4 linked regions of the Homo sapiens genome follow. The protein of the gene in region 1 interacts with the protein of each later gene in a pairwise test. Each region holds a gene or a part of one and is shown on either strand. Other genes may lie near its edges.

Region 1 (7,037 bases):
TAGAGGCTGCAGTGAGCCATGATCGCACCCCTGCACTCATGGGTGATGGAGTGAGACCCTGTCTCAAAAAAAAAAAAATGAAATAGAAGATGTGGTCTCTGATCTTAACTGATTTATAACCTTGATGAGATTGCAACCACAAGACAATGTGAACAAGTGCAAAGTAATTCAACCTCAGCTGAATAATTTTTTAGTAAAGGCATGCTCATATTCAGGTGAGAATACTTAGGAAAGACTTTTCCCTAGCCCCTGAATCAGGTGTGGAAGGAGTGGTCTGATCAGGTCACTTACAGGGCTGGGTCCACAGAGACCTTGTTTATGCCTCCCCCATCACTTCACCCTGGGGTCTCCAGGATGCCTGCAAGAGGTTTGGCCTCTTCCATGGTGGAAGCAAATGATTCCATCACGAGAATATCTTGAGTGAGGACACAGATGATGTGTGTTCACATGGCCCTGCTCCCCATGGCCTCCCTAATGCTTAATGCCGTCCTTGCATTGGGTCAGTGAGTGGAAGAGGAATCACTCCACCTCCTCATTAGTAGGAAAACCCAGGTGACACTGGACCAGGTTACGTTCTAGTTTCTCCAAAGGTAATTCAATGGACCTCGTTTGGAATACTCTGGTGGAGGTCAGATCTGAAATGGAAGCTTCTCCCATGCTTTGTGATCTGAGCCATGATCTGTCCGCTCACCTGTTTCTCACTTTTCCCACTCCACCCTGTGTCTCATGATGACGTTTGCTTTTCCTCCCGACTCAAAATTTACCTTTTGGGGTCTTACCCTGGTTGTAGGAGCTGGCTTTTCCTGGGGATTAAGGCCTCAGTCTTCCTCCCATTCGCACTGCCTTGCACTGCCCCCCATATGTTCCCAGGGTAGCTCTCCAGCTGGAAGCCTTGCTGATGCCATGTCCCAGAAACACCTCCAGATCAACCAGACGTTTGAGGAGCTGCGACTGGTCACGCAGGACACAGAGAATGAGTTAAAAAAGCTGCAGCAGACTCAGGAGTACTTCATCATCCAGTACCAGGAGAGCCTGAGGATCCAAGGTGAGGCGCGGTGGAGGCACATTGTGCAACTTGAGGATTGGGCCTGGGGACTGGAAAGCAGCTCTGGTGGGGTTGGGAGAAAGCACACTTTCCATTCGGAGGCAGCGACCTTTCTCTGAGTAGCAGGGACTTATTTGCATTGAAGACAGTGCTGAGAGGATGAGATTTAGGAAGGGGAGATGACAGGACCCCCCGCTTAAGTGCATATCTCACTCAGGTCCCCACATCCAGGGAGCTTCTGAGCTGCCAGGGAAGACATTTCTTCTTTTGAGAAGGAGCTCACAGTCTAAATAAATACTAGCAAACAATACTTTTGTATATAGTAGGCATATTATAAGTGGAGCTTTATTGAAATGATAAATAGGAAATTATATAATTACATGTTTAAAAATTTTTCTGGCTGGGCACGGTGGCTCACACCTGTAATCCCAGCACTTTGGGAGGCTGAGGCAGGCGGATCACCTGAGGTCAGGAGTTCGAGACCAGCCTGGCCAACATGGTGAAACCCCGTCTCTACTAAAAATACAAAATTAGCTGGGCATCCCAGTGGCGCATGCATGTAATCCCAGCTACTTGGGAGGCTGAGGCAAGAGAATCTCTTGAACCCGGGAGGCGGAGGTTGCAGGGAGCCGAGATCTCACCATTGCACTCCAGCCTGGACAAAAAGAGCAAAATTCTGTCTCAAAAAAAAAAAAAAAAAATTCTAAGCTGGGAGTGGTTTTGCACACCTGTAATCCTGGTGCTTTGGGAGGCCAGGGCAGGAGGATCACTTGAGGCCAGTAGTTTCAGACTAGCTTAGGCAACATAGTAAGACCCTATCTCTAAGGGGGAAAAGAAACCTTTCTAAGCAGGTACGTGTAAGTACTAAGGACCTGTATATGATTTCTAATGTTCTATGCAGTTATTCACAGAGGTCTTCCTGAAACAGAGTACACTTAACGCCCCTTAGGTAGCCCTTATGGACAGAGCTTCCCTAGCCTGGTATAAATCCTGCTTAGTAGTTGGGGCACAGAGAGCTTCAGTCTGTGGTGAGGCTGTGGAGCCCCACCAGCGCCCCCTTTTGACCCTGTAGCAGTTTGGCAGTTTGAGCTTTAATAGTTTCCTCTCTGCTTCCATGCCCAGCTCAGTCTCAGAGAAGCCTTGGCTCAACCACCCAGCCCCTCCAAACACACACACACACAGCACACACAGACAACACAGCACACACACACACCACACACATCACACACACAGCACACACACACACAGCACACACACCCCCCACAGCACACAGAGACACACAGTGCACACACACAGCACACACACACCACACACAGCACACACACAGACACACAGCACACACACACCACACCACACACACCACACCACACACAGCACACACACACCACACCACACACAGCACACACACACCACACATAGCACACACACACACCACACATACACACCACACACACATAGACACACAGCACACACACACACACACAGCACATGCTCCTCTAATTCCATGTATGTAGGTTCCATTTTATGTCTATAGTGATACTACTTATTTACTCTTTATCTTCTCCACTGGAATATAAATCTTTGAGAAGGGACTATATCTTTTATCTCTGTACCCTGAGGCCAGCACAATGCCTGAAACATAACAGTTATTGAGTAAAGGTTGACAGGATGATTCTAGCCTGTCTTCCTTTTTTATCTGAATCCATCCTAGACTGGCCCTAGAAGAAGGGCAGCTCCTTCAGAGAATGGAAACGGAAGATTTGGGATGGCTATTCCTACCCAAGTCCTTAGACTGTCAACAGTATTTCTGATCCCGTGCCTGGCTTTTCTGTTTCCTGTGCATGGTGGCGGATTAGGTTTGGATTCAGGTTGGGTTTGGATCTATCACGCAGTGTCTTCTCAGTCCCATTTGTCAAGTTCACTCAGCAGAAACACAGACTATTGATCTGCTTTTGCCAGGGAAGGCTCAGCTGCCTCCAGTGGAGTAGGGAAATTGCTTCCCGTCTCCCTGGCCTCCTTCCCAAAAGCTTCTGCAAATTTCCAGGAGAGCCCTAAGTGGGTCCCTTGCATAGGAAGGCTGGGCCCAGGTGTTGGGATCACCACCACCCTCCCTGTGGCTGGGCAGGATTCCTGAGGTAGCCGTGCAGATACCTTGGATCTGTCCGTCCCTGGATGATCCTCTTCCTGCTCGATACCTGCAGTGAGATTGGAGCCATATTTCTGAGTTCTAGCTCTGGGCTGTTCCTGGCTACATAGAGTTGCTTTTGTCTGTCCCAGCTTGTGCATCCCATGGGTCAGGGCTGGGGTCAGAGTGACGTGGCCCTCAGGGGCCAGCCAGGAGCTCGACCAAGACATGCTGGTGCGCGCATCTTCTGACTCAGCTCAAGCAAGGACTCTGGGCTGTTGAGAAGGTGATGGGAAGGGATTAATAGTCCCAGTGTGGTGGAGACGGGCTGTCGCTGGGAGGGTGGGGTGGGCCTGCGGTGGTGGTTGTAACTGTGGACATGTTTACTTTCTTAGCCTGGGTTATTGATACACAGGTGCTCCTGTGTTCCACGTTCCCTGTGTCTTACCTATTTCATAATAATTTTTAAAAGGTAATGAGGCCTAACTTACTCCCTGTCCCGCCATCAATGAGACTCCTCACAGATGGTGTGGAGGGAAGCCGCCTCCCTTCGGCCTCCCTTTCCTGAGAGAATCTTGGTGGCTCTGCATCCCCAGTGGCCCTGGACATGCTCTCCCTCTGCGGTCTGTCTGTCTGTCCGTGTTCCCTGGTTGGTTGGCTGGGTTCACAGTGAGCTCACCTGGACAAACATGCTGGGCCCCTTCCAGCCTCTCAAGAATCTCATCCTCCCCTGAGGAGGGATTGCTGTGCTCAGGGACTAGACAGAGCCGCCGGGGCTGGGTTTCCCTGAAGAGGCCTTGCTGCGGGAGGGATGGGGCCGAGCAGCTGCTTGTCTCTGTCACCTCTTCTCTCTGTCCTGTTCCCCGTTAACCAAGAAGCACGAACCTCACACAGAGCTCACCCATGTCAGGCAGCTTTCTGGCATCTTCCATGTCCTCATGTATTTAATCTTAATGCACCCCACTGAGGCAGGTGCCGAGAATCTCCCGTTTTACACGTGGGGAAGCCAAGGCACAGGAAAGGAAAGCGATTTGCCCAGGTTCACCTGCAGTCAAGGGCATGGGCACACTTACACCCCAGACAGCCTGGACCCATGCTGGGCCGCGAGAAGAGGGCTGGCAGCCCTGTGAGGCAGGCGGGCAGGAGGCAGGCAGGCCTCCTCCCCAGCTGCCCCAGCACCCGTGTGCCCCCAGAGGGGACGGCTCAGAGTCAGGAGGCTGGCGAGCAGGGCCCAGAGGCGCCTCCTGGGGCACCCATTCATCTTGGCCCCCCTGGCTGTCAGGAACCCCGACTTGCCCTTAATGCAGTATCTGAGCCCAGGAGGGTCTCGCTCCAGAACGGGTGAGTGGGCTTCTCTGGGCCTCCTGTTGGACACTGGGAGGTGATGGTCATGGTTTCCTCTCCCCTCCTCTAGCTCAGTTTGGCCCGCTGGCCCAGCTGAGCCCCCAGGAGCGTCTGAGCCGGGAGACGGCCCTCCAGCAGAAGCAGGTGTCTCTGGAGGCCTGGTTGCAGCGTGAGGCACAGACACTGCAGCAGTACCGCGTGGTGAGTGGGGTCCTGGGCCTCTCCTGGGCGTGGGTGCCATGAAGTCAGTCTCTGGGGACCCGAGGGAGGGCTGGGACCAGCATGAGAGCAGAACCTGGGAGGGCAGGAGGCCTTTTTTCCTGGGGGCCTTGCGAGGCAGAGCAGCTTGGGGAGAGGGAACGGCCTGGGCCCTGCCCTGCCATTTCCCAGCGAGGCCCTGCGGTGTTCTCTGGGAGCCCAGAAGGGGCTGCTCTCCTCCCTTCCCTCAGGAGCTGGCCGAGAAGCACCAGAAGACCCTGCAGCTGCTGCGGAAGCAGCAGACCATCATCCTGGATGACGAGCTGATCCAGTGGAAGCGGCGGCAGCAGCTGGCCGGGAACGGCGGGCCCCCCGAGGGCAGCCTGGACGTGCTACAGTCCTGGTAATGGTGTGGGGCGGCCAGCGGGCAGGGCAGGAGGGGCTGGTGGGGATCCCGGCTGCTTCTGCGTCCTGTGCTGGCTCCTGCAGCAGGCCCCCTCCATCCTGGGACAGCTCTTGTTTCTCCAGGGAGCCTGGTTCCTCAATCAGACTTTGGCCCCCATCCTGTGCACCTCCCCCAGGAAGGGGGCTGCTGTCCTGGAGATGGGACAGGGTTCGGGTGTGTGGGGTGATGCTTGGGCTGTTTGGGCCTAGTCAGGGTCGCCCCTCCTGTGTACGTCTCTAATTCTGGGAGGCAGGGAGCTCTGCTCTTCCCATGGGTGGGAAGTGTGGCGAAAGCACAGAGCCTTCCTGGGGGAACGGGAGCTGTGTCTTGGGGCCTGGCGTCTGTGCGGAGGAGCCATTGTCCTCCTGTTGGCCTTGGGGCTCTCGTGCAGGTGTGAGAAGTTGGCCGAGATCATCTGGCAGAACCGGCAGCAGATCCGCAGGGCTGAGCACCTCTGCCAGCAGCTGCCCATCCCCGGCCCAGTGGAGGAGATGCTGGCCGAGGTCAACGCCACCATCACGGACATTATCTCAGCCCTGGTGACCAGGTGACTGCTGCCTGTTTGCCATGCCCAGGAGCTTGGGGCAGCTCCTGCCTGCGTGGGGGGAGCCGCAGGTGCCTTCCAGACCAGCAGATCCACTTCCTGCCTCTCATCCCTCCCAACTCCATCTCCAGTTGCTGTGGCCCTTGCCCAGTTTCTCCTGTGGACACTGCAAGAGATGCCCTTGGGCTGCAGCCCATGCCAGCTTCTGTGTTATCTCACTCCCCTCTCCATCCTCTCCCTGGACTCTCACGGCTTCCCCAGGAACAGAGGCTGTGCCCGAGCTCTTCACCTCCTGAGCCCCTCGGGAGGCAGCCCCACCCCCACCACAGAGGGACTGAGAGCCCTTTCCCCTGCACCAGCCCCTCATCATGCATCTGTCCCTGTGTCCCCTGCAGCACGTTCATCATTGAGAAGCAGCCTCCTCAGGTCCTGAAGACCCAGACCAAGTTTGCAGCCACTGTGCGCCTGCTGGTGGGCGGGAAGCTGAACGTGCACATGAACCCCCCCCAGGTGAAGGCCACCATCATCAGTGAGCAGCAGGCCAAGTCTCTGCTCAAGAACGAGAACACCCGCAAGTAATTGTGCAGCTTCCTCTCATTCCCTGCTACTTGTCTCATGTCCTGGCAACAGGAAAAAAAGAATTCTGCCTCCTGTGTCAGATCCCTGTTTGCCCTTCTGGCCTCTTCTGGGCATCAGCAAAGGAATATAAGGAAGTTCTTGGGCCTGGTGTGGTGGCTCACACCTGTAATCCAAGCACTTTAAGAGGCCGAGGTGGGCAGATCACCTGAGGTCAGGAGTTCAAGACCAGCCTGGCCAACATGGTGAAACCCTGTCTCTACTAAAAATACAAAAAATTAGCCGGGCGTGGTGGCAGGCACCTGTAATCCCAGCCACTAGAGAGCCTGAGGCAGGAGAATCCCTTGAACCTGGGAGGCAGAGATTGCAGTGAGCTGAGATTGCAGTGAGCTGAGATCACGCCACTGCACTCCAGCCTGGGCAACAAGAGCAAAACTCCGTCACAAAAAAAAAAAAAAAAGTTCTCTTAGGAACTGTTTTCTGTGAAGATAGTTTGATCTTGTTTCATTTTGTAGAGATACGTCCGAGAAGATTACATGTATGTGTTATGTAGCTAACATTTCCTCTAAATGACGTACATTTTTAGCAAACTTCTCTATTTCCTGCTACCCCAAATTATATTATTTACTCCGCATGTCCTGAGACCCTGGCATGGGTTTGGAGCTGGTCTCTCTCTGATTTGCAGTGATTACAGTGGCGAGATCTTGAACAACTGCTGCGTCATGGAGTACCACCAAGCCACAGGCACCCTTAGTGCCCA
Region 2 (7,037 bases), on another chromosome or scaffold:
TTGACAGACTTCAGTCTTCTTTCTGTGATATGAATTCAGAATTAAAAACTCAGGGAAGGGACTAGAGGTAATTGTTCTGTTTTCTGGCAGGTCCCACATTTAGGCAGATAGGAGAACATCAGTGCACCTTCATCCTGTGCTTTGGGAGAGACAGAGGAGGAGGAGGGGGAGGTCAGAGAGACCTTGAGCCATCTTCAGTTCACCATGTCAAAATGCCATACTTCCGGGTATCAGTTTCTGAGCCCCAGTGATAGCAAAAGGATCCAGTTGAGGATCATGCTTTCTACTTAGTTGTGAGGTCTCTTTAGTCTCCTTCAGTATGGACATTTCTTAGTCTTTCCTTGGCCTTCTGAACTTGAAACTTTTGAAGAGAACAGGGCAGTTGTATTGTAGAACCCCTCAATTTGAGTTTGTCTGATGTTTCCTCATGCTTAGATTCAGATTATGCATCTTTGGCAGGACTGTCGTCGAAGTTACATTGTGTTCTCAGTGCACCTTGTAATATGTTACATTATTTTGATTTATTCCATTATTTACTTTGATTATCTCATTATGTTGATGTCTGCCAGACTTCTCCAGTATAAAGTTACTCTTTTCTTCTTTGAAATTAATAAACATTTTGTGGGGAACTATTTTGAAGCTAACTAAAAATTCCTTTCTTCATCAAAATTTCTAATTTATCTGGACTCAGTTTTTTACTTTAATCAACAGATTTAATCATTACTACCATTATGTATTTTAATCTTTAATTTATCCCCAGATTTGGCCACCGAAAACCATCTCAAGGTGGATTCTGTGTCGTTTCAACATGTCATCATCATTCTTTAAGCATTTCCTTGCTTTTTGGCATCATAAGATGTCCCAGGCTCATCTTGCAGTTTTTCTATCCTGGTTTTGGGATCAACCATTTCTCTAAAGAGTCCTGGTTCCTTTTGGTGGAGAATAGTATTAGAAACCAAAGTCTGGGTGCTGAGTGTGCTCATTGCTCATTGTGGTTGTATCTGCTCTCCCAGGCCTTCTCAGCAGACAGAGCTAGGGTATATATGTATTTGTATATACACAAGATACACACATAGGCATTGCTTTTTTTTTTTTTTTTTCTGAGATGGAGTCTCACTCTGTCGCTCAGGCTGGAGTGCTGTGACGCAGTCTTGACTCACTGCAACCTCTGCCTCCCGGCTTCAAGCGATTCTCCTGCCTCAGCCTCCCGAGTAGCTAGGATTACAGGTGCATGCCACCATGCCTGGGTAATCACACATAGGTATTTCTATCTGTCTGTCTATTTATCTATCTATCTATCTATCTATCTATCTATCTATCTATCTATCTATCTCAATCATCAATCAGAAACCACAGCTGCAGGATTACATTGAAATCTAGTTCCAATCAACAGTATTTATTCTTGTTTTCTCCATTTCCATATTTATAATTATCTTCTCTGACGGTGAAAAACTTGGCTCCTATTATCCTCCATATATTTACTTACTTGATCAATTCTGTGTATGTACTTTTGGCCACTGGAGCCCTTTCAGTTGGGTCCCCATGTCCCTTTCACATACTCCCATCATATTGTATGTGTTTGTGCATGTGTTTTAGTGCTTTTTACTTTTCTGGCACTACAAGATATTCCAGGCTTATTTTGTATATTTTATACCCCAGACCTAGAATCAGCCATTGCTCCAATGAGCCCTGGTTTCTTTTATTGAAGAATATTATTAGAAACCAAGATCTGGGTGTTATGCGACTCTCCTCTTTTTTTGACACTCCTGTGTTCATTAAACTAAGACATAGCTAAGTTTTTGCTAGTCTTCTATTTTATTTTTAAGGAGGAATAGATGTCTTTTATTTCTTTTTCAAGAATATTGAGAATTTAGCCACTTGAAATCTTGGAAAATTATATGGCAGACTGTTTATTAATGTGTATCTAAAAACATAGAATCATGATATCCTTTGTCCCATTTTTGATCTGAGAGTTTTTCATCTCAGTAAATTCATATGTAGGCAAGAGTTCTTAAATTTTGTGTACCATGGATTCCTTTGCCAGCTTGGCAAATCCTATGGGCCTTTCTCCAAAAAAAAAACATTTAGTCAATGCCTGTGGGGACAGGCATGGTGGCTTATCCCAGCACTTTGGGAGTCCAAGGGGGGCGGATTGTTTGAGCCCAGGAGTTCGAGACAGTCTAGGCAACTTGGCGAAAACACATCTCTACAAAAAATACAAAAATTAGCTGGGCATGGTGGCACATACCTGTAGTCCCAACTACTTGGGGGGCTGAGGTGGGAGGATCACTTGAGTCAGGGATGTTGAGGCTGCAGTGAGCCGTGTTCATGCCCCACTGCACTCCAGCCTGGGCAACAAAGTGAGACCCTATCTAAAAAAAAAATTAAATGCATAAAATAAAATACATAGAATTACAAAGTAAATCAATTGTATTGAAATATGACTGGGATTATAGGCACCTGGCACCACGCCCAGCTAATTTTTTTTGTATTTTTAGTAGAGACGGGGTTTCACCATGTTGGCCAGGCTGGTCTCAAACTCTTAACCTTGTGATCCACCCGCCTTGGCCTCCCAAAGTGCTGGGATTACAGACATGAGCCACCGCGCCCGGCCAGAAATCAATTGTATTGAAATATGGTTATCAGAATATTTAAAAAGCAAATGTTTGATATAGTGATATATATCAATGTATTACAATATATTACAAGACCTAGTGGTGAGGTTAGTAACTAATGTAGAAGCAATGTTAAACACAAACTATTTTAGCATATCTGCAACAATATTCTATGAAACTATCTGTGCTTTCTATTGGTGACTATCACAGGTGCTGTGAATACTACTGTAGTTTGTTACCATATTCATAATTGAAGAGAATGCTAAGCTTCAATTAGAGGTTATTAGAAATAAACATATAATTTCTTCCCAATCCATGTTTATGGACCCAGCAGGAGAGTTAGTGAAAGCTTCAGGTAAGAACACCTGCGTAGAGAAAGCATATGTTGGAGGCCTCTTGACTTTGTTTACATTTGGGGAGAACAATAGGGAGAATTAAATATTTTAATCAAAAACTTTGAAAAACGTTGGAAAACCAAAATAGTATTCATTTAAAATGGAGCATGATATTATGGTTGGAATGTGAACTACAAAGGAACATTAATGTTCATTACTTTCTATATATTATTTTGTTGAAAAGCAAAGGATTTTTAGAATCTTTTTATATATTATAGGTGTGAAAGTTATTTGAAATATTGGCCAGGTGCTGTGGCTCACGCCTGTAATCCCAGCACTTTGGGAGGCCGAGGGGGGTGCATCACTTGACAAGAGTTCAAGACCAGCCTGACCGACATGGTGAAACCCCATCTCTACTAAAAATACAAAAATTAGCCGGGCATGGTGGCAGGTACCTGTAATCCCAACTACTTGGGAGGCTTGAGACAGGGGAATCACTTGAACCTGGGAGGCAGAGGTTGCAGTGAGCCAAGATCGCACCATTGCCCTCCAGCCTGGGCGACAGAGAGAGACTCTGTCTCAAAAAAAGAAAAAAAAAAGGAGTTATTAAAATACAGACTTTGTTTGGATATAAGCCATATGATAATAAAGCCTTTGATGATGGGAAAAAAAGATATAGCAAAGAAGAGATGTTTCTTCCATAAAAGGGTAAAAGTTCTTATTTCTTTGTTCTTAAATTTGTGTATATATGCTATGCTTATAATATTTATTTTTTATAATATTAGGGGATCATGGAAGCTGATAAAGATGACACACAACAAATTCTTAAGGAGCATTCGCCAGATGAATTTATAAAAGATGAACAAAATAAGGTAAAAAGGAAATTACTGGGTATTATTAAAAATTATTTTATATCTATTAGTTTTGCAGTAAGGCATGTTTTGTATGTCTTTGTCCAACATTACCTTGAATTTGGGAGGCCGTTAGGCTTTAAAAAAATTTTTAACTTCCATTATGTTATTTAAGCCTTACAAGAAGTGTCATATTTTTATTCTTTCTCTTATAAGGCTTACAACACTAGCTGCTTTCTCACTCACACCCTCATTTCTTGGATTTGCATCAACAAGTTAAGAGCATAGTCAGCAATTATCTCATTAGACCCCAAGAGGGAACGGAGGCCCAGGTAGCTTAAACCACTTCCCCAAGGTCATATGTCTGGCTCATTAAGGTAACTGTGTACTATGCGATACTATGGGAATCACAGATAATTAAGAACAAAAACAACAACAACACCAACAACAAACTGCCCCAGAATATGTCCGCTATTACAGTGCAATTTAAAAGTCTTATCATGCTCACAAATAGCTAGGAAAGGAGTTGATGCAGCACTGAAGTAATATTCAGAAGATCTGATCTCAATCTTTGCCTTACTATACAACTTTCTGTGACTTCGGTCTAGTGTAAAAGGTGGTTTCCTGATTTATATAATGGAGATAGTACTACTTGGCAATGTTAGAATAGACAGGTGATGATGTAAAATATTCAACAAATGCATTATTCACATAGTCATATTTATTCTGAGACTGTCTAATGTCTTTCTTTGGTCAGGATGAGAGAAATTTATAGTCTTTAGTTCATTCGGAAAAATGAGTTCAGGGGCTATTTACTTTCTTTGGTACCATTTGATATTTTTAAGGGACTAATTGATGAAATTACAAAGAAAAATATTCAACTAAAGAAGGAGATCCAAAAGCTTGAAACGGAGTTACAAGAGGCTACCAAAGAATTCCAGGTACTCTCTTAATTATTTTATATACTACATTTTTGATGGATGCATGGTTTTTGGAAAAAGCATTTTAATTACACAAAATTCATTTTTAAAACCTTATCATCATCCATGGCACCACCATTTGTAATAGTTCAAAATGGAAAACAACCCAATGATTCCTTCATAGTAGAACGAATTAGTGAATTGGGGTATAGTCATATGATAGAAAACTACACAGCAATGAGAATGAACAGATCATAATGACATGCAGCAACACAAATGAGTTTCATAAACACAATGTTAACACAAAAAAGACAGAAGAGGGCATACCATATGCTTCCCTTTAAATTAAGCAAAAGCAGGATGTTTGAAGTTAAAACAGTGGTTATTTTGGAAGCAGGTAAGACCCAGAAGGGAACCCAAGGGGGTTTCTGGGGTGTTGTCATGTCCTGCCTATCATCTGCGTGCCAATCACGTGTGTTAGCTTTGTAAAATTTCATCTTGCTGTACTTAATGATACATGCATTTTTCTATTATTTACGTACACTTTAATAAATTTACAAAAACAAAAAATTAATAAAATTTACCAAAAAAAGATGGTCATTAGCAAATTACTGTTGGATCAAATTCTGGCTTTTCTCACTGAGTTCTTTTATAATTCTTCTCATCCAAGGTGCTTTGGTAATTTAGATGAGTTTCACGGTTCAAAAAATTGGACATATATTAATCCTCACCATTTAAATTCTCTCCTAAATTTTCCTGTATTTTAATTGTACATAATTTTCACCCATTTTTTTTCTTAACAACTCAGATGTTAAAAAATTAAAGCATTGAGGCTGGGCGCGGTGGCTCATGCCTGTAATCCCAGCACTTTGGGAGGCTGAGGCGGGTGGATCATGGGGTCAGGAATTCACGACCAGCCTGGCTAAGATGGTGAAACCCTGTCTCTACTAAAAAAGAAAAATTAGCCAGGCATGGTGGCGGGTGCCTGTATCCCAGCTACTTGGGAGGCTGAGGCAGAGAATTGCTTGAACCTGGGAGGCGGAGGTCGCGATGAGCTGAGATCACACCACTGTGCTCCAGCCTGGGCGACAGAGCGAGGCGCCGCCTAAAAAAAAAAAAATTAAAGCATTGACACTTCTTGTTTCTGAAGTGGGAGATAGGATATTGAATATCAGGAAGTGAGGTTTTCTGTGTTTATGAGATGGGTGACTTTGTGCAGAAGACTCTGTTAAGATTCTGGTTACTTCTCAGACTGGAGCTAGAATCATGCAGTCTTATAACTCAAAGAGCCTTTAGAAACCGGCCAGCCCTAGTCGACCCACTTTGCAGAGGACCAAACCTGTGATCAGAGAGCTTAAGTAAATTTGCTGTCTGTCGCAGTGTGGTCAGAAATAGAATCAAGCTTTCTCACTCTAATTTCAGAAAGCCCTTGCTCCTCAGCATATACTGGGTATTTCTGCATTATTGGGTAACACTCTGCCTTTACTCAGACATTGTAGACTGTTTTGATGTCAGCCTTACCGTAATCAGAAGTTCCACTGGAGTTATGCATAAAGGCAAAGAATAAATGTAAGATTAAATTGAATGACTCACTGAATATTTCTAATCTCTGTGTTATTTTCAGCATGTAAAATAACCATGGGCAATAGAAATGCAAGCATCTATCTCATTTGTGCATTTATGTGTAGTTATATGAATCTGTTAATCCCAATAATTCTAAGCAGCTAAGTATAACCACCTACCTTTATCTTTCAGGTTACAATTTTTTTTTTTGAAACAGAGTTTTGTTCTTGTTGCCCAGGCTGGAATGCAATGGTGCGATCTCGGTTCACTACAACATCCGCCTCCCTGGTTCAAGCGATTCTCCTGCCTCAGCCTCCTGAATAGCCAGGATTACAGGCGTTTGCCACCACGCCCAGCTAATTTTTGTATTTTTAGTAGAGATGGGTTTTACCATGTTGGCCAGGCTGGTCTCAAACTCCTGACCTCAGGTGATCTGCCTGCTTTGGCCTCCCAAAGTGCTGGGATTACGAGTGTGAGCCACCTGTGTAGCCTCAGCTTACAATTTCTGTTGATACTGTCCCTTCTCATTTTTTATAAACCTAAGTTGTGGTAATGGTTAAAAAGTTGATGGGCAGGTGTTGGGGAAGGTGGAATTTTTAAATTTGATAAATTTAACATCATCTAATTCTGGGCCAGGTGTGGTGGCTCACGCCTGTAATCCCAGCGCTTTGGGAGACCAAGGCAGGCAGATCATGAGGTCAAGAGACCATCCTGGCCAACGTGGTGAAACCCTGTCTTTGCTAAAAATACAAA
Region 3 (3,295 bases), on another chromosome or scaffold:
GGTGTGGCTGGGAAGAGCAGGACTGGCGAGCGTGACCCTCCCCGTGGCTGCGTGTGCTCTGAGCTGCTCAGTACCACAGCGGCTGTCGCCTGTCCTCCCTCGGACAGTGTGGATAAAGCCCACTCAACCTGGGGCGGGGAGGAGGTCACCTTCTAGCTCCAGCACTCGCAAAAGATGCACCTGACCTGGGGTGGGCTCTCACAAAGCCTCAGACTCGAAGCCAAACTCGGCTCCCAGCAGCTCCGGGTTCAGGGAGGTGACCCTAGCAGGTCTCTGGGAACACCCTCTCCTAACCCCCCAACCCAGGGCAGGAGGGATCGCCGGACAGAAGCACGTGCGGAAAAACCCGCACCTTGACCCAGGTCAGCCTGGTATGAGGGTGACTTAGTGACAAACAGATGGGACGGTGCTGTTGCAGGGCACAAGGCTGGCCCCAGACACCAGGCACCACATGGGGCCGGGCCATGGGCAAGGTGCACTCTCAGAGAAACACAATGTTTTCGGAAAAGACAGACAGAGCAGCTCAGGGCTAGAGAATAAGTTTATACACTGCCTCGTTAGGTCCAGGGGCCCGCGCACGTGGCCAGGCGGGTGGTCCTGACGCTTCAATTCATTTACAAGTATTGGATTCCACGCCTGCTCCTGTGCCCGCAGGCTTCCCCAATAGGCCAGCAATCTCAATAATGCTTTATTAAAGGGCAGATTCATATGCGGCTCTTGGGGGAATTTTTACAAATATCAAAGGAACTAATCCAGCATCCTATATAGAACTCTGCACACTTTGGGGAGGTCCGTGAAGCAGGACAAAGTGCTCTTTACACAGGAATTGAGTCGGTTCAAGTATCTGCTCTGTGGGGAGGACACCCTAAGCATTCTACATACGTCACCCCTGCTCTCAGGATGCACCCAGTGGGCTCGCGGTCAGGGTGGCCTTGCCGGTGTCCACCCCCACACCACCCCCAGCTCCGGAAGCGGCTCCACACGGGGCTTGGACCTCTGCAGGGCAAGAGAGGGAGGGTCTTGAGCTGGCTGGGCCCTCTGGGCTCCCTGGGGGAAGACCCCACCCTGCTGCCTCATGGGGCCTGCAACAACCCCAGGGCGGGACCCTCCACCTGACAGTGGGGACAGGCAGAGGCTGGGGCGTTGTGCCTCTTCTAGAGGTGACCTGCTCACCTGCTCTCAGGTTGACCCTGCCTGCCCCCCACCACCCGGGCACACTCCTCCCACGCAGCCTGCTGCAGGGCCTCTGTACTTCCTCTTTGGCGAGTGCTCCAGAAATCCACCTGGCCCTCCCTTGCTGCCTCAGTGCAGCCTTCCCTGACCCCCATCTAACGTCACAACCACCTGAGACTCCCAGCATAGGCCCTTGTGGCTCTGCGGCCAGAACGATGCCTGGCATGGTCAGCACCCACGGCCCAGCCCGCCCGAGGATGTGGCAGGGCAGGAGCCACTTCCAGCTGCAAGCCCTCCTGGCTGCTCACAGTGGAGCTAGTCTTAGGCAGCCCCATCCCTTCTCTGTTGAGGTTTACCTCCAGCGCCCACCTCACCAGTGCGTTCTGCTATCTACAGCCCTTCTCACCCGCAGCATCCGGGACATCCACGATCATACAGTCGCCCTCCTCCTCTTCCTCCTCCTCCGTGTCTGCCTGGAAGCCGTCCATGTCTTCAGCACCAATCTGGACAGACAGGGTACACGGCCATCAGCACTGCAGGCAGCAGCCACCCTGGTGCCAGTGCGGTAGCGGGGGGAACTCCACAGGTGTGACACCTTCCTCCCACCCCCAACACGGAAGGAAACCAACATCCAGAACCCAATTTGGTAACAAACTGTCCAAATGTGAGAGGTTTATTCAAGAGGCCACAACCAGAGAACCTTGGGGGTTCCCTCAAATGAACTGGATTCAGATCTCCAAAAACAGCCATCATTGCCAACTGCAGAATAATTTCCAGTCAGTGACAGGCCGCATACCTGATAGTGGCCCCATCAGATTACAACTGTATTTATTTATTTTTATTTTTTTTTGAGACGGAGTCTCGCTCTGTTGCCCAGGCTGGAGTGCAGTGGCGCGATCTCGACTCACTGCAAGCTCCGCCTCCCGGATTCACGCCATTCTCCTGCCTCAGCCTCCTGAGTAGCTGGGACTACAGGCGCCTGACACCACGCCCAGTTTGTATTTTTAGTAGAGACGGGGTTTCATCGTGTTATCCGGATGGTCTTGATCTCCTGACCTCGTGATCCGCCCGCCTCAGCCTCCCAAAGTGCTGGGATTACAGGTGTGAGCCACCATGCCTGGCCTTTATTTTTTATTTTTGAGACGGGAGTTTCACTCTGTCACTGAGGCTGGAGTGCAGTGGCACAATCTCAGCTCACTGCAACCTCCGCCACCCGGGTTCAAGCGATTCTCGTTCTTCAGCCTCCTGAGTAGCTGGGATTACAGGTGTATGCCATCACGCCCAGCTAATTTTTGTATTTTTAGTAGAGACGGGGTTTCACCATGTTGGTCAAGCTGGTCTCAAACTCCTGACCTTATGATCTACCCACCTCAGCCTCCCAAAGTCCTGGGATTACAGACAACTGTATTTTTATTTAATATATATAAATCTTGAGACAGAGTCTTGCCATATATCCAGGCTGGAGTGCAGTGGTGCGATCTTGGCTCACTGCAACTTCTGACTCCCAGGTTCAAGTGATTCTCCTGCCTCGGCCTCCTGAGTAGCTGGGATTACAGCCACCTGCCACCACACCCGGCTAATTTTTGTATTTTTAGTAGAGATGGGGTTTCACCATGTTGCCAGGCTGGTCTCGAACTCTTGACCTGAAGTGATCCGCCTGCCTTGGCCTCCCAAAGTGCTGGGATTACAGGCGTGAGCCACTGCCCCAGCCGCAACGATATTTTTGCTGTGCCTTTTTTTTTTTTTTTAACAGGTGCCCGCCACTACGCCCAGCTAATCTTTTGTATTTTTAGTACAGACGGGGGTTTCGCCATGTTGGCCAGGCTGGTCTCGAACTCCTGACCTCAGGATTCGCCCACGTCAGCCTCCCAAAGTGCTGGGATTACAGGCATGAGCCACCGCACCTGGCCTCTGCTGTGCCTTTTCTATGTTAAAGACACATATACCACTGGGTTACAAGTGCCTGCAGGATGGAGCAGTCAGTCACCTGCTGCACAGGTCCACAGCTCAGGAGCCCTGGGCTATGTACCACACGGCCCAGGCGTGTGGCAGGCTGTCCATCTAGGATGTGTAAGAGCAACCTAGCCCCACCCAACCATGAAATTGCCTGAGGACACCTCTC
Region 4 (7,037 bases), on another chromosome or scaffold:
CTGCTCCTGAGTCCACAATTTAGATTACTTCATCTCTGCTAGCAACAAACTGAATGAAATTTCGATTTGAGCAGAAAGTAATTTACCGGGATCTGGACCCATTTGTCATCATATCTCTCTGGGTGTTTGCTGTATCACTGCAGTTTTCCTATGCAATCAAATGAGACCACAACATCTGCCATGGGGGGAGGAGGGGGAGAAGGAAAAGGCTGCAGAGGAGGGGAAAGCTCAAGGAATTGTGGTGTACTGAAGAAAAACATATACATAATTCCTTACATCCTTCTGCAAGCACAACAAAATATTTTAATAACCACCGAACTTGGGCTTTTATGCAATCTGTAGACTCAACCTGGGAAGCTTTATTTGCTTTTGGGCTTCCCTCTTTAATATCCACAAATATTTATTAAACAGACCAAAATGATTTCACATTGAAAGGTGGTGTCGGAACAAGTAAGCAGAATCAGAGAGGTAGTTTTCAAAAACGAAAAACAAAGTAAGAGGACTTACAAATTAACATATTGGTGTCATAATAAATATTAACATTTGCATTTCCTCCTTGTCCAAATAAAGTCATAAAATGCAGTCTGTGTCAAACCAGGAGACATATTCCTATAGAACACCCCATAATCTGAATGATTGCAGCATGCCTCTATATAAAAATAATTGCTTTGAGTTTTCAGAATCTGGTCTTGCAGAAGAGGCTTGTCATGTTCAAACTACTAATTTGCTGTCGCCACTTTATTGAAAATAGCCTGTAAGTTGTTATTAAATGTATTGACTGAACGACAGGGAGAGTAGTAAAACTGCCCCTTAAGATGGCTTTTAATAGGAAGCCCGAGAAACAAATTTTGCAGCAGCATCGATTTGAAGAGTTCAATCAAAACTCCATTTCAAAACTAATTAGTCTGAGATCCACGACACATTGACACGTTCTTGCAGAATCAGAACAGTTACAGAAAGAAAGCTGAAATAATACACTGTCAGGACCTCTAGCTGCAGGACCACACCATGTGGGAGCTTGGGGGGCCTCTGGGCTGCTGTCTCCTAATGCTGGACACTTCAGGAACACTGATGAGGACCTCCCGGTGTCTCACCTGCAGTACCACTGCCGCAGGGGAGTTCTCAGAAGGGGAAGGTAGCCAGAGAATGGGCATGGCCCTGAGGAAAGCATTTATGGACGGCAGTAGTGCTATTCCAACCCCCAAAAGGGATACCAAATTCAAACAATTTGGGTAAAAATAAAGTTAAAAACCAGTCCATGTGGCCAAATACATGCTGAGGATAAGAGAAGACAGGTAATGGGGGTAGAAGGGGGTGACAGAATCCTAACAAGGCTAAAGAACAAATATCCTCTTACAGCAACCCTGAAGTATTTTAATGGATAAGAATCTATAATTATGGTTGCCACTACCAACAGGTACACAGTGACACTCCATCTCAAAAATACCCTTTTCACAGTACCCATCTGATTACTCAGCCTAAGTGTTCATTTATTTAACAATTCACCCTGAGTAAAGTCAGTTGTAAGTCTTCAACATCGAAGTGTATTTTAATAATCAGGGCAGTTCATATGTAATCCAAAAGCCTTTCATAGATCTTATTTTTTTCCAGGGCTGCTATCATAACCTTTCAGAGAACAATCAGCCACAAAATGGTGGGATTCCTGAAGTGCCAAAAATTACAGTTACAAAGTTTGAAATGACCAAGATCTACCCAGGACTGATGTGCTATTGAACAACGTATCAATGGAGTTTAAGATCTTTCCATGCCTACAGCTTTAAGGCTGCCTCAGAGCAGAATAACTTACGTGTCTATACACATTCTAATCCCCTTTTACCAGAGAGGAAGGCTACCATTAGAATTCCACCCTTTTTCTGAAAAGTTGTGTGTGCGTGTGTGTGTGTGTTTTTTCACAACGTTTCTGTGCGCTGGAGAGTTAATTATCTAACCAGGGGGACTGTCCGGACAGTGTTTGATTTAAAAGGCTCGAGGCTTTAGGTGCTCAATTAAGTAGCTATCGGTCTCAGACTGGACTATAATGGGCTCTTTTCTCTTTAACTCAAGCAACGGGGAGATATACCCCAGGTCAGGCTAATTAAAGCCAGGGGAGTCTTTAATTGTGATGACAGAATCGGTTTCAGTTTCCTTTCTTTGGGTCCTCAGTCCAAGAAGGTCGTTAATATTTCAGCATTTGGGCAATGCAATCAATCACAAACATCAAGAGGTTCCTTATACAGGGAAAACGGAAAAGATGGGAAGAAATCCCACCAAACCACTGCACTTTAAAGGTGCTTTGCTCCTGTTTGAACAACACCATGTAGTTTTATTCCTGTTTGCCCGCTGAGCTCCAGCTCTCCTTGCTGGCATTAAGAGATGGAGGGCAAATCGTATTTTTAGTTTACTATCAATGCTTAGCATCTTTCAGTAACTTCAATGACCAATAGGTGGGCTTATTTTCAACTGCATTATTACTTCAAGCAAAATACATGCAATATGAAACGCTACCTGGCTGTGTTTTCTAAACTGCTTTTGGGCAAGGAGAGGTACGTTTCTGAGAGTGTGGCTGAAAGGTATATACATTTGTACCTGCAAGTAAATATCAGCAACCTATCTGAGGAGAAAAAAGCACATCCACAGCTACTGATCCAGAAGCAATTGGTTTTCCAGCAGGTTCCTATATTTAATCTAAATTCTGCACCAGCTATATTAAATGTAACAAAGAAATGCAACCCAGAAATTATGCCTGGAGCCAAGTCCATTAAAGGTACTTCGGAAAAACTAGAGACCAGGCACCTTAAAAGCACCAGAAGCTATTGATACTTAAGAGGGGGGCTGTGCATAATAGGAAAAAAAAAATCAGCCAAATTACGCTTGGTTAATTCAGAGTAACAGATCTGCCCCCAAGTGAATTGGAGGCCTTGAATTAATTCTGTTATGACAAATCAAGATAAACGTTCCCCCTAAATTGCATGCGATTTAATTAATTTTTGAGATCCTGTTTTTTTTTTTTTTCTAGCTAATAGTTCACATGCTCCTGTGCTGTCATTGTGCTTGAGTGGGCAGACTTCAAAGTGATATTAAATAACCAACTATTAGATTTACCTAGCACGTCCTATTGGAAAAGTGCCATTTAATTACCTAGCCTGTTCAATTAAAGGGACAGCATTCTCTGAATATAGCAGCTTGCTGTTGATTACCAGGGAAATGAACTCGCTGTCTGGCGGCGCCTCCATTCCTAACGCCACCCCCTACCCAAACACACCCTCCACCACCAACTACCAATTCTCCCCACCCTCGCCCCAGGCCCCCACCCCCGGCCGCGCCGGGCTCACTGCGGCTGCGGGCGCCACGTGAACCGCCCGAGTGGAGCCCGGGGAAAGAAAGCGCGACCCGCTCGCCCGGCTCCCGCCCTGCGCTCGCCCCCTCGTGGGCCCGAGACCGCCCGCCGGCTGGGCGCTCTGGCTGCGGCCTCGGGCGGCGCCGGCCCGGGTGCTGGCCGCCTAGGGAGCGAGGGCCAGCCGACGACCGCCACCCTGGCTTCCGGCGCGTTTCCTCGCCCTCCCCGGACCTGGAGCCCCACCCGCCGGTCTCCGAACTTCCTCCTCTCGCTGCACTTTCCGCGCCAGTCTTCGGGCCCGAGGTGGGGGTGGAGGAAAGACGGTTCGAGGAAGAGAAACGGAGTTTCCGAAGCTACTTGGGGCGCTTGGGTGGAGCTGAGGGGTCGGGAGCCGGGGGTGGGGGAAGGGGCAGTCCCAAGGTTCCCCTATTTTTGTAAGATGGGGGGGCCAGGCAGGCGTTGGTCCCTTTAAGATCCACCCTCCCCCTCCGCTCTACAACCCCCCCCCCTTCATTCTTTCCCTCCCTCTCTTAGAGGCCAATTTTGTTAATTAAATGTTTTGTTTGCGACGCAGCTCTCATTCATTGCGGACACGTCATTCGGAGCAGATCTAAGCCAGAGACCAGATCTCATTAGATAAAGCCCATCAGAACTAAGAAAATGGAGGAGCCACTAATTAAAGCTTTTAATTGTGCGGATTCGCTGCAGCAAGGCAGCCGCTTTATCTGAAATCTTGGAGGGAGAGGAGGCAGAAGCCCAGCTCTGCCCATCGACACTTGGCCGCGGAGGGGGAGGGGACTGGTGAAAGCGCCCCCTCATCTTGCAGCCCCCTCCCCCGCGCTCAGGCCGGCCTTTCCCAGCTCTCCCGCAGCTTTTTAGCAAGACCTTGGTTGTTTTCAAAAAACCACAACTCAAAGTCAAGACAGTTTAAAAGCCCCTCAGTAAATCGCTATGTGGTCTCAGTCGGACCAAGGGGTCCCCTTCACCTGGCGGCGGGCGAGCAGATTACTCCACTCTTCTGCAGCGGTCCCTGCGGCATTGAAAGCTCCTCCAACAAGTGGACTTGAGGGACATTGGAGAGGGGGTAGCTGAGAGGAACAGCAACGTCTGCACCTTCCCACCCTTTGGACATCCTGATGGGCTGAGAGAGGAACACTGAAGGAAGACTTCAGTAATCTCTTAAATTGGAGGGGAAGGGGCGCTCAGCTGCTGGTGAGCCCTGAGCTAAGTGTGAGGCCATCAATTTCGTACTGAGCTAGAACTCATCTCTCCTAGAAAGATCTAAGGTCCTCGGGGTAGCATGTAGTTCAAGAGCGAGCCTGGCTCCAGTTTCCAGATTCAGAGGGAAAAAAGGAAGTAAGAACGTAGATGCCATTAATTAAGGCTCAGGGCTGGGCACACATCCTCCATTGCTCCATTAGGGCACAGGAAAACACCAAAAGGCCATTTACATTTGGCCCCAAGAATAGAGAAAAGAATGGACACAATTCCCAGGAAGCCACTTGCCTAAACTTGTCCTGGGGGAATACAAGCGGACCCATCTTCTTTTTAATTAGTTGTAATCAGAAGCGAGGGTTTTTTTTGTTTTTTGTTTTTTTTTTTTTGAAGGCACTCGGAGAAGAGATGAATCTGTACCATTCACGGAATCTTAACAGCACTGTCAATTTTTCCACTTCAAACCACACTCCTTTCTTACCACAGTTTTGCTTTCTATTTAATTACAGCACCGTCAAAGCTCATGGCATTACTTGGAAGGAGGACCAGAAAGCATTACACCCATGTTCCTGCTGATTTTCCAACATTTACTTCTAAAAGAACACTTAGTGAAATTAATGCTGCCATCTTAATTTAAAAATAAAAGCCCTCTCCCTTCCTGTATTTCTTTTACTTGGACTGATTGAGGATGCCAGCAGAATCGACACAGGTTGCATTATCAAAATAACTAAATGTCATTTTACTCCATCATCTTACACTAATGATATCACTGGGGTAAACATATCCACACTCAGCTCGGAACTGCACTGGGATCTTTTACAATGTTAGTCGCAGGATAAGGCGAATCACAATGGAGCTAAACTTTGAACAAAATAGTTCATCCACTGATTTACCCACACTGAAGAAAGAAAAAAATTTTCTACTAATCACTTTAAAGAAAAAGGTTTAGGACAAATTTACATAGGATGAAATTCTTAAAAGTGTGCGGTTTTCTAGTATCAACTGTGTGCGTGTGGGTTTTTTTTTTAATTACTGGATGTTGAAACAGAACACCTCCTAGAAGCATTCATGTGCATCAGTCTATCAAACCATTTACTCAAATTAAATGTGTAATCCTTCAAATGCCTCCTTTCAAATTAATGAGTTTAAGTAGCTTGAGTTCACCTGAAAAGATCCTATAGGCACCTGACCTCCTGAATTCTTTCCATTAATTGCACTGCAACTTGTTGGAAAAGACTGCTTACATGGACATATGAATGTTCCTATACATTGCTTTAAAATGCAAGATTAGTATAATTCTATAGCCTTTTTCTAAATCTCTTTTGGGGATCAAGGGCAGTGATACAAACGACAACAAAAAACCCAAAACCTGAACATGCTTCAATTGAAAAAAACTGCAAATTCTACATCGCAAACCACACACTAACTGAATTATTGCAAGCCTCCGAGTAACAGTATGAAGAGAAACATTACCACCAGGTTTTATTTCTTGGGACTTTTTTTTTCTCTATAAGAAGAATTACAAGTCTTTAAACTGATGGATAATTAGCATTTTTCTCAAGGAGCACAAAGAACGAATCACAGCCTTCCGCTCAAAAAAGTTTCAAGATGCTTATGTAAATATCGTTAATAAGCCATCGCCATAGACAAATCATTTCTCACTAACTACACTTGTATTTTTAAGTCAACCTTTGTTTCTGGGTTCCTCTGTGAGTTCCTACCTTGTTTTAAGAACGCAGCTTAACTCCCGCTTGGGATGTTTGCTTTTAGCCTGAAGTCCAGTAGAGGCTGACCACTTACTTAAACTCTAGGACCAGAGGGTGCTCAACCTTTGCACATCTAATGACCCAGTCCCACCAGATGGTCTTTACTTAGTATGGCATTTGCCATGAATTTGCCATCAGATATTGGAAGACTAACACATGCTTCCTGAACCCCTTAAATTCCGCCAACTAGAAGATTTTTGAGGTGAAGGCTGCATACTCCCCGTAGACGCCTACTCCTTTCCTCACAACCCTGTTAACCTTTGGCCTTGCCATTGCTCTTCCCCCCATCTCCAGGAAAGACAGCAAAGTCTTACCTAATGTAGTCATTTCTGCAAAGGATCATGCCACTTTTGGTGTAACAGGACGTGCCGATGTCGCCCAGCTGCGCCTGGCAGCAGGAGCACTTGAGGCACCGGCTGTGCCAATAGCTGTCCATGGCATAGAGCAGAAAGCGGTCCGCAATCTTGCCCCCGCAGCCTGCGCACCGCTTCCAGGAGAGGGAGCCGGCCGTCACCGGGGGCGGCTGCGAGCTGCTGCCCGGATTCACCATGGTCTGCAGAGGGCGGGAAGGGGACAGGGAGAGAAAGACAAAACAGGGGCGATGCAAAAGTTAGTAATCGCCGGAGAGAGAGCAAGCCCATTCCCCTCCTCCCCGCGGAGCTGCTGGAAGGAAACAGCAGGGCAAGGGCGGGAAGGAGGCTGAGGGGGAGAGGGAAGAA

What was found.
Region 2: the proteins of STAT5B (region 1) and NMI interact in binary tests that used the Homo sapiens proteins (3 or more experiments, as listed by UniProt).
Region 3: the proteins of STAT5B (region 1) and CHAF1A interact in binary tests that used the Homo sapiens proteins (3 or more experiments, as listed by UniProt).
Region 4: the proteins of STAT5B (region 1) and LMO4 interact in binary tests that used the Homo sapiens proteins (3 or more experiments, as listed by UniProt).

Annotation. Positions count from the first base shown.
Region 1 is NC_000017.11:42,217,390-42,224,426, reverse strand, and holds part of STAT5B (signal transducer and activator of transcription 5B), read left to right. Parts: intron 1-870; coding exon 871-1,045; intron 1,046-4,584; coding exon 4,585-4,715; intron 4,716-4,963; coding exon 4,964-5,115; intron 5,116-5,548; coding exon 5,549-5,704; intron 5,705-6,096; coding exon 6,097-6,276; intron 6,277-6,962; coding exon 6,963-7,037. UniProt on the Homo sapiens protein: Carries out a dual function: signal transduction and activation of transcription. Mediates cellular responses to the cytokine KITLG/SCF and other growth factors. Binds to the GAS element and activates PRL-induced transcription.
Region 2 is NC_000002.12:151,279,653-151,286,689, reverse strand, and holds part of NMI (N-myc-interactor), read left to right. Parts: intron 1-2,399; exon of another isoform or gene 2,400-3,391; coding exon of another isoform or gene 3,392-3,658; intron 3,659-3,735; coding exon of another isoform or gene 3,736-3,741; coding exon 3,742-3,822; intron 3,823-4,646; coding exon 4,647-4,742; intron 4,743-7,037. UniProt on the Homo sapiens protein: Acts as a signaling pathway regulator involved in innate immune system response.
Region 3 is NC_000019.10:4,440,626-4,443,920, reverse strand, and holds the end of CHAF1A (chromatin assembly factor 1 subunit A), read right to left. Parts: intron 1,677-3,295; coding exon 1,580-1,676; intron 997-1,579; coding exon 896-996; 3' UTR 524-895; downstream 1-523. UniProt on the Homo sapiens protein: Acts as a component of the histone chaperone complex chromatin assembly factor 1 (CAF-1), which assembles histone octamers onto DNA during replication and repair.
Region 4 is NC_000001.11:87,331,847-87,338,883, reverse strand, and holds part of LMO4 (LIM domain transcription factor LMO4), read right to left. Parts: intron 6,872-7,037; 5' UTR 6,869-6,871; coding exon 6,633-6,868; intron 1-6,632. UniProt on the Homo sapiens protein: Transcription cofactor. Plays a role in establishing motor neuron identity, in concert with MNX1, acting, at least in part, to disrupt LDB1-LHX3 complexes thereby negatively modulating interneuron genes in motor neurons.